3 separate regions of the Homo sapiens genome follow, and regions 1 and 2 are each reported to be linked to region 3. The links are microRNA targets in miRTarBase. Many come from high-throughput screens and were not tested one by one. Region 3 holds a microRNA gene; each other region holds the end of a gene's coding sequence.

Region 1 (3,255 bases), not on the chromosome of region 3:
GGCCAGGCCACGCTGAGCCATGTCTCCACGCAGATGAGGGCCAGAACACAGTGGCCGTCTCGGAGACTGACTACAGGCTGTTCATCACCTTCCACCTCCAGAACTTCAGGAACGGGACCGAGACCCACACGCTGGCGCTCTATGGTACCTCCGCTGTCCCCCTCTGACCCCCTCGGGGACCCCACCTCCTCTGAAGTCCGGCCCAACCCTGGGCGGAGGAGGGTCTCGCAGTGGCCCTGGGGTTTGGAGAGGTGGTTCCCGTTGGCTATTCCTTCCCACAGACACACCGTTAGGGTGCTGGGTGCTTCAATCTGTCACCTCCCATCTCACTTGGCACAAAGCCCCTCTCTGGTCAGGGCGTGACCCCCTGCCCAGCCTCAGCACTTCCTGAGCACCCCCAGCAAGGCCCAGCTTCACACAGAACCAACTCTGTTCCCAGCACGGGTCCCATAGCTGGAACCCTCCTTCCTGAGCAGATTTGAAGAAACCTGCGAAAAGTACGGACTTGGCTCACAAAATATCATCGACTTGACCAACAAAGGTCAGCCCCACTGCTCCCGGACCAAGCGGGAGCCGGGACAGGGTGGGGATGGGAGGTGTGCCTGCGGGGTCCCTGTCCCTGCGCTGAGAGCCCCCTCTGTCCTTCCAGATCCCTGCTACTCCAAGCATTACAGGAGCCCGCCCAGGCCTCCCATGCGTGAGCTGCGACTCGGGACGGGCAGGGGGCTGGATGGGGAGAGCTTGGGGCCAACGTCAGAGGCTGCGGGGTCCCACCCCAGGAGGTGCCCATCCCTCCCCCTGGTCTGGGAACCGAACACAAGGTGCTTTGGTGAAAGATGCTGTGAAAAGCATCCTGGAGTCGGGGCAGTGATGGGGCCTTCCAGGGTGGTAAGGTCTGAGCAGGAAGTGAGATGGGGCCCTGTGTGAGTCTCCAGGGGCTGATGTCACCATATGCGGGTGACTAGGACAACCAGGATTTACTTTCTCACAGCCTGGAGCCCGAGGTCTGAAACCCGAGGTCCGCAGGGCTGTGCTCCCTCCACCAGCTCCCGGGAAGGGTCCTTCCTGCCTCTTCCGGCTGCTGGGGGCTCCAGGCATCCCTGGCTTGTGGCTGTCACTCCAGCCTCTGCCTCTGTCTGTGTCTCCTCTTCTGTCTCTTCTAAGGACACTTGTCATTGGATTTCGGGCCCATCTTCATGCAGAATGATCTCCCGTCAAGACCTCAACTTCACACCTGCAAAGACCCTTTCCCATCAGATGCCCTTCACAGGCTCCAGGCACTAGGAAAGGAGCATGTCCTTTGAGGGACACCACTCAGGTCACCACAGGCTCCTTCTCCGAGCTGCCCCTCCCTTCTCAGACATGGTCCCAGCCCAGTAAAAACCCCCAGGGCCCCCTTCCCTTCCCAGAGCCTGAGCCTCCCAGAGATACGCCTCTGAAGGCACCTCTGCATTTCTGCACGAGGGTTCCTGAGGGTAAAGGAGTGGATGTACCTGTGGTGCGTGGTGGCCCCAAGATGCGGGTGAGATGAGATGGCAACCGGCAACCAAGGCCCTACCCCTCCCCTCTCCGCCCCTCCCCTCGCTGACCTTCCCCTCCCTGTCCCTCCCCTCTCTGCCCCTCCCCTCCTGTCCCCTCCCTGGGCTCAGCCACTGCCTTTGGGGGAAGATGATCAACAATGTCACAGCTGAGGCAGGTGCCTGCGCCCCCGCCTCCATGTTTTGGTGAATAAAAGGGAGGTACCAGCCAATCTGCGGTGACTTTGTGGGTTAAAAGTGATTGTTGGTTGGGCCTCTGTCAGAGATGTGAAAACGACTGCATTTGTATGATGCTCTCGAAATCACAAAACCGCAGAGGGGGACATGAGTCGGTGATTTCCAGAGGTTACAAATGGAAGGTAGGAAGTCAGCCAGAAAGGGGCACCAGGAGGGGCCCTGGTGACGATGGAACGTCCTGCACTGTGACCCTGGCGGTGGACATGACCCTGCACGTGCAGCAAAAATGCGGCTCTGTCTGAGGAGCCGCTGGCCCTGCCCCCTGCCCGGGGGAGAACATTTTGCAGCCCGAGACCCAGAAGCGTCTGTGCTGGGGGTGTGCGCTGGGCGGCCCCAACTCTGGCGTCTGCGTGAGCTCTCCAAGGGGTCATCCTGTGGGTCACAGTCCCGGGTGCTCAGGAAGAACCTGTCCCCAGAGCCAGTGCCTGCTTGTAAAGGAGCTAAGTGGAGCTGTCTTAGGATGAGGGTCTGGATGCCACCCCCCACCCCACCTCCATTGGGAGCTCCAGGCTATAGGGTGAGGCTGGGTAGAGTTTTAGTGCCCGCTGTATGGGTGCCAGGCTTGGGGAAGGAGCAGCTCCATTGGGATGGGAGGGAGTGGGAGGCACCTGGCATTCCCATGGCTGCCCAGCTTCCGGCCCCTTGTTTGGATCTGGGCCCAGCCTACTGAGCTGCAGCGGGAACGCGAGAAGCTGCCCACTCGGCGGGGCCCGTTGGTGCACAAAGCTGGCCTCGGAGGAGCAGAGCCAAGGCTGCCAGAAAGGGGTGCTGGGAGGCCACTGCCCATTGGTGCAGGGGGAGCCTCTGGGCCCCAGAGGAGGCCTGGGCATGGGGGTAGATGTGGACATAGGCAGAAGCCTTTAGCCCCACCCCAGAAGACAGCACAAAGGGGAGCTGAACCAGAGCTGAGTGTCCCCAGCACCCACCCCACCATCAGCTGCTCAGCACCAGGCTGGCCCTGGCCTCAGACTCCTGCAGCCTCAACACCAGGGGCCTCAGGTGGACAAAGGAACAGGGCAGTGGGCAGGGCATGAAAGAACAACCAAGAGACCACCCTCGTTGTTTCCATTTGGGGTGGCACTCAGTCAAATAAAAATCTAGTGAGGCCGGGTGCAGTGGCTCATGCCTGTAATCCCAGCACTTTGGGAGGCCGAGGCAGGTGGATCACCTGAGGCCAGGAGTTGGAGACCAGCCCGGCCAACATGGTGAAACCCCACCTATACAAAAAATACAAAAATTAGCCAGGTGTGGTGGCGGGCACCTGTAATCCCAGCTACTTAGGGGGCTGAGGCAGGAGAATCGCTTGAACGTGGGAGATGGAAGTTGCAGTGACCCAAAATCATGCCATCGCACTCCAGCCTGGGCAACAAGAGTGAAACTCCATCTCAAATTAATTAATTAATTAATTAATTTAATTAAATGTATTCAGACCCCGACTCCTCATCCTCCACTGCTCCCTCCTGGTCCAAGCACGCCCTCC
Region 2 (3,255 bases), not on the chromosome of region 3:
CTGTACGTATGCAAATCTCTTAAGGTCCATCTTAATGCAACGCTGTTAGAACTTGAGACTTCAGTTTACTCTTTTTTTTCCTCTAATTTTGGCCCACTCTGGCAGGTGAAATTGAGACAGAAGCACATTCCAAAGAAGAAAAAAAAGCACTGAGGAAGTCAGATGTGACTTTGGGTGAGTACCTTCCCTCTATGTTATTCCCTCATCTTTAAGTGAGAGTGATAATCACCGCCTGGCCTATTTCACATACTTTTGTACAGATCAAATAAAATAGTTTATGTGAAAGTATAAATGTTGAAGTGTCATTGAGAGGTAAGAAACTATTATATGGTTGTGGCCGGGCGCGGTGGCTCACTCCTGTAATCCCAGCACTTTGGGAGGCCGAGGAGGATCACGAGGTCAGGAGATTGAGACCATCCTGGCTAACATGGTGAAACCCCGTCTACTAAAAATACAAAAAAAAAAAAAAAATAGCCAAGCGTGGTGGCGGGCGCCTGTAGTCCCAGCTAGTCGGGAGGCTGAGGCAGGAGAATGTCGTGAACCCAGGAGGCGGAGCTTGCAGTGAGCCGAGATGGTGCCACTGCACTCCAGCCTGGGCGACAGAGTGAGACTCCGTCTCAAAAAAAAAAAAAAAAAAAAGAGACGAAACTATTATGTGGTTGTGCTGCCCTGCCCTCAGTATGTTGTGTAATAAATATAATAGGGGTATGAATAATTGTGCAATGAATACATCCTGATGGTAAAAAATTTAATGTACACACAAAAGGGGGTAGGCAGATAGGAGGGAAACAATATTGTAACATCCCACTGTACTATTGGTTCTCAACCCTACCTCCACTTTAGGATTGTCAGGAGAGCTTTTAAAATAAAAACATCCTAAATGCAATTCTATATCCTGGATTGGACCCTGAAGCAGACAAAGCACATTAGTGGAAAAATTCATGAAAACGGAATAATGTCTGTAGTTAATGGTAGTGTAACTATCCTGATTTCTTAGTTTTGACAAATGGCCCATGGTTATGTAAGACGTTAACATTGGTGTAAACTGGGCGAAAGGTATATAGTAACTTTTGTACTATCATGACAACTTTTCTGTAATTCTAAAATTATTCCTCCAAAAACTATTATTTGAAGCATAAAACAATTAAAAAATAAATATACCTATGCCTGTACATCAGCTAGATGGGGGAATCTGAATCCCTGGGGGAGAAGTCTGGACATATATGTATTTTTGAAACCTTCCCAGGTGAGTCTAATGTACCAGAAGGGTTGAAAGAACCACTGCTCTCTCATGTTCATTATACCATGAATGCCTGAGGGACTGTGACCCTGTCTTGTTCTTTGATATAGCTAGTACCTAGCACAGTGTCTATATGGAAAGCTTGTGCAAGTGTGTTCTTGCTGAATGAAACTTTATTTGCAAAAATATCCTTAGTCCTCTGTAATAACAGAAGGAAAAGTGAAAACAAAAAATACCAGGGTAGATTTTCAGACATCTTCCCATCCAGAACAGCTTCTATTCCTGCCCCGGTCTCTTGTCGTTTTCAGTTAATCTTTACCATTATCACCATATTTACCATATTCCTAAAATAGTGAAATTGCCATTCCATTGTTCAAAAATCTGACTTCATTCCCCATTTTTAACAAGTGATATATTTCTTGGTTAGGTAAGCAAAATATTCTATGCTCTAGTAATATGAGCTTTTCAGCATGCAAGCCTACTACTATTTCATATGGACTCTACATTAACCATAGTTTGCCTGCAGTTCTCTTGAACATGTTTTGAACTCACCCTTCTCTTTGTCACATACAGTAATGCTGCTATCCTCATCTATGCAAATACTTTCCGTCTTTCAAGGCTTCATGCCTGTGTAATTTTTTCAGGTCACTCCAGCAAAAAGTGAGCATTCTCTGTTTGTATCTACCATTCAAATGGCACCAGCCCTTACTATTTTCTTTTGTGATTATTTGTTTTCTGTTTTATTTCCCCATGAAACCAAATTAACCCCACCGTGGGGTGTTAGATAGGTCTTCTAACCTCCGCAATTCTTAACATGATGGTATCCACACAGTTAAGCATGTAATAATGATTTAATGTACATTGTGCACAAATACAATATTTAAAAAATAAAAATAGAAAATCAAAATTCAAATACAAAAGTAAACTACATTCATCACTCCAAAATATCTTTTAAGGAGAATTGTTAAAACTGACCAAAAGAGTCAACTAAAGCCTGAATAAAATTTTGATGCTACTGTTACATTAATAATTGAACAGCATTTACAAGAAAACTATATACTCCACAAAATGTATGTGTTCAGTCTTAGTCACTTATCTGCTCTTAAGACGTAAATAAATGTTCTTAGGGGGGAAAACCAATTATCCAGTCCTCCCCGCTTCCTTATTTGTCTGTTCCCACCACTATCCTCTCCCCGACCTATACATACATACACACACACACACACACACACACACACACATTCTAGCATGATATTGTCTATGTGGTAGAGCCTTAAAAAATGTTATTTCTTTCAGATATGGTCTACAAATAGAAAAAATAATATTAATGAGCATTGTCAAAAGTTTTACAATATTTTGAGAAAATCACGCATAAACTATTAAGCTGTATGTTCCATTGGACCACAACTTTATGGTTGAGCATTGTTAAAACAAAACATAACTATAGACATCATTTTCTGGATGACTCTCATTCAGAATTGCTGGTATTCCTGGCTCTTCTTTGGGTTTTTCTTTCATTTCTGTAAAATCAAATAAAATAAAAAATAGATTCAATAAATTGTATTGGGACAATTGACTCTCCATTTGGAGGAAGAAAAACTGCTTTACAACATACACAACAACAAACCGTAGATGGGGTAAATTTTTAAATACCATAAAGTTATAGAAATAATAGTGTTTTTAGTAATCTTAGGATGCTAAGCAGAACACAGAGACCAGAAACCATAAAGGAAAAGACTAGCAAGTTCGAATACCTAAAAAGTAAAATTATATATGGTGAAAACCACTATAAACAAAGTTAAACCAAATCAAAGACAACTGGAAAAATATTTGCAACATATACATAGTAAAAACTATTATTTAAAGAGGTTTTTTAATCGGAAAAAAGAAATAAAAAATGTTGAATGGGATAAGGATTCAAACAGGCAATTCTTAAAAAATTATATTTATAATAATCCTGAAAAGATGTCTAGTAACATTAATTATAAAAGGGGGTGATTAAGACCATTAGGTGT
Region 3 (3,255 bases):
TTCCCCTAAATGAATCAAATAATTCATTATAGTTTCCAAGTATCCTCTCTACCTTCCCCAAACATATTCTCCCAGTCTTCTGGTGGCTTACTAAGATCTTACCCCAAAGAGTTCTCTTACTATATACATTGTGAACAGACTTAATTCACTTATTTTTCAGGGCCCATCTCTACTAGTTTGTCCTACAAGACACACAAATAGAGAGCTTTTGCCGGGTGCGGTGGCTCACGCCTGTAATCCCAGCACTTTGGGAGGCCGAGGCGGGCGGATCACGAGGTCAGGAGATTGAGACCATCCTGGCTACAGTGAAACCCCATCCCTACTAAAAATACAAAAAATTAGCCGGGCATGGTGGCAGGTGCGTGTAGTCCCAGCTACTCGGGAGGCTGAAGCAGGAGAGCTTGAACCAGGAGGCGGAGCTTGCAGTGAGCTGAGATCGTGCCACTGCACTCCAGCCTGGGCGACAGAGCGAGACTCCGTCTCAAAAAAAAAAAAGCTCTTATCCAGAGCTGCCTTTGAAAAATATTTTTGCTTATGACTGTAATCCTGTGGAAGCTGCAGGTCACCGAGAAGGCCCACAGGGGGCAGCACTAGGAATGACTCTTTCCCTCTAGTCCTCTATGCGCTAGGGGAGAGAGTTCTTGGAGATGTTGATGCTTTTCACCAGGCTTTAGAAGCCCCTGATTGAGGCCGGGCACGGTGGCTCACGCCTGTAATCCCAGCACTTTGGGAGGCCGAGGCAGGCAGATCATGAGGTCAGGAGTTCGAGACCAGCCTGGCCAATTTGGTGAAACCCCGTCTCTACTAAAAATACAAAAATTAGCTGGGCATGGGGGTGTGTGCCTGTAGTCCCAGCTACCCGGGAGGCTGAGGCACAAGAATCACTTGAATCCGGGAGGTGGAGGTTGTAGTGAGCGGAGTTTGCTCCACTGCACTCCAGCCTGGGTGACAGAGAGAGACTGTCGCAAAAAAAAAAAAAAAAAAAAAAAAAGAAGCCCCTGAGATCAAAGATTCATTTGCAGCAGCCTAGTTGCTTGTTCTGTGGTGTTTCACCTGTCTTGAGGACAGCATTCTTGTTTTCTTGATAATAAAAACATAAATACATGAAAATCTGTCTAAGTCACCCAATCTCCCACAAAACAATCTGCCTATACATCATTTCCAAGCACGATTAGCATTTGAGGTGAAGTTCTGTTATACACTCAGGCTGTGGCTCTCTGAAAGTCAGTGCATCACAGAACTTTGTCTCGAAAGCTTTCTAGCAGCTACCCATTTTGGGAGTGGGAGGGAAGAATAGACCTTTTAAATTCTTTCAGTGTGGCCCTAAGCTGATAAGGTCTTTCTCAACAGTCAGCATTTAATGTGTTACAAGGTCAAGCCTAGTCCATTGTCCTGGAAGCCCATTTCTCAGTAGCTGGGAGTTATTTATAAACTTGCCCTTTGCAAAAACTTAAAATGAAATTACATTATCAGTAATGACTTCTGGGGCCTTTAAACTGGCTAGTTTTATGGCATAGCCCTCCCCACTCCTGAGAGGTAAAAGCCCCAGGCTGAAGTGGAACCAGCTGCAGTCAGGAGGTGGCAGGAGAAGTAAAGAAGCTGCTGGCTCCAGCTGTAGCAGAATGGAGAATTGAAGCGGCATTTAAGCGCCTGCCTAAATTCTCAGCTTTATTTAGTATGCTTCCTCCTTTGGAAGTTTGAAATGACCAGCCTTTTCTGTAATGCCTTCTTTCCCTTTTGAGAGCTCCAGTAAGCTCTATGTCAAATCTAGTCTTTATCCTTGTCCTCCTTAGCCTGTCTTTTATTCTTCCCAGGAAGATCCAATGTTTCTATTTTTGGGGTTTCTTTGATAATGTCTTCTAGGAAGCCAGTGAAAAGAACCAAGAGCAGAACCCAGGGATATGTTCTCTCTTTGCCGGTGTGGCTGTTGTAGGCACTCACACCCTGTTGGCCACAAAGGACATTGTCTGACTCTCCCAGTTGGCTGGGGGCCATTAGGGCTTTGCTTTTCTTTGGGTTCTAGGGATGCCAAACTCTATGGCTGCAAGAACCAGTTTCCTATGCCAGGTTAATGCCCAGCTTAAACTAATGGGCAGCTCTCTAAAGTTGCTGTGAATGTGGATAGAGGAACAGAGCCAAAGATTTCCAGGAAAAGGTTGTGGGAAAAAATGATTTCGTCTAAATTTTGTTCCTTTTGGACTTCTTTTCTTCCATTAAGAAAACTCATTCCCATTGTTGTCTCCCTTTTGGAATTGAGGACCCAAGTTGTTATAGAACTGAGCCTGCTTTACAGGAAGATCTTTCTGTGAGGAATTAGGAGTTAGGAGAGCTGCTTCTACTTGTGACCTTTTAAGACTAGACTCTAGAGGACTTCCCTCCACTAGGCAACAAAGTTCTTTAGTTTGAGAGAGGAGTTACTCATGCCTTGTTTATTCCAGAGTGTTATATATACAGGATGGACATCTCTAAGGAGTGTTTATCAGAGGAGGGATAAAGTTGGTAGTAATATCACCCAAAGTGGCCACATCAGAAAATCCACTTATATGTGGAGGTCTAATTATAAGTAGTCCCTTAGATGCATACTGCGTCAAGGTATTTTAACTTTATTCTCAAACTTCCTTTATTCTCTGAATTATTCACCAAATATTGAGAGTTTAGTATGTGTCAGGCATTGTTCTGGACAAATGGGACAAACCAGCGAACAAAACAAAAATTGCAGTCCTCAAGAATTCAAGTAGGGAAAGCTTATGTTCCTCATCACCTTGTTGTCAAAAGACTGGGTTCCTTTTACTTCCATTCTGAACTGCCCTCCTCTGCCCCCGCAAACAGGGTTGATTCTTTGCATGGAACCATAAACCTCCTGAAGCCTCATGAGGCAATTTATGTTTGTAGAGGCTGCAGTTTCTGGGTTCTTGGCAATGATTTTTTCCTCCTCACTCTTGGATATCTGTCAAACACATACTTTTGTGTTTGGCTCCTGTGAGGACTGTGGGTTTCTTAAATAAGGCCAGGAAAGAGGTAGCAAAGCAACAGCCTTGTCTCAGCACAAGGGATATCAATGGTAAGTAATGTTGATTAGAAAGTCAAGGAATGTAGGTCGGGCGCAGTGGCTCACACTTGCACTTTGGGAGGCCTAGGTGGGAGGATTGTTTGAGCCTAGGAGTTCAAGACCAGCCTGAACAATACAGTGACACCTTTTCTCTTAAAAAAAAAAAAAAAAAAAAGAAAGTCAAGGAATGTGAGGCTGCAAATACC

The links. Region 3 holds the annotated microRNA hsa-miR-148b-3p (UCAGUGCAUCACAGAACUUUGU, at 1,225-1,246, shown strand). A microRNA usually pairs through its seed, bases 2 to 8, with sites in the 3' UTR of a target mRNA and lowers its output. Matches are read on the target gene's strand: a 7mer-m8 pairs with bases 2 to 8, a 7mer-A1 pairs with bases 2 to 7 and ends in A, and an 8mer does both.
Region 1: the mRNA of LCN9 is a reported target of hsa-miR-148b-3p. The part of its 3' UTR that is shown has no 7-base or 8-base seed match.
Region 2: miRTarBase lists HEMGN as a target of hsa-miR-148b-3p. The part of its 3' UTR that is shown has no 7-base or 8-base seed match.

What each region holds. Positions count from the first base shown.
Region 1 is chr9:135,665,212-135,668,466 of GRCh38, forward strand. LCN9 (lipocalin 9) reads left to right here. Exons shown (of 6, transcript NM_001393661.1): 4 at 34-144; 5 at 477-541; 6 at 650-1,750. The coding sequence ends at 532. Among named protein-coding and RNA genes, the nearest start is that of LCN9, 3.5 kb to the left of the region's middle. RefSeq lists enhancers at 1,487-1,987, 1,988-2,488.
Region 2 is chr9:97,924,719-97,927,973 of GRCh38, forward strand. It overlaps HEMGN (hemogen), which reads right to left. Exons shown (of 4, transcript NM_197978.3): 4 at 2,073-2,760. The coding sequence ends at 2,666. Among named protein-coding and RNA genes, the nearest start is that of TRMO, 3.8 kb to the left of the region's middle.
Region 3 is chr12:54,336,054-54,339,308 of GRCh38, forward strand. It overlaps MIR148B (microRNA 148b), which reads left to right and starts at 1,163; the gene lies at 1,163-1,261. The region is part of intron 1 of COPZ1 (coat protein complex I subunit zeta 1); the gene reads left to right.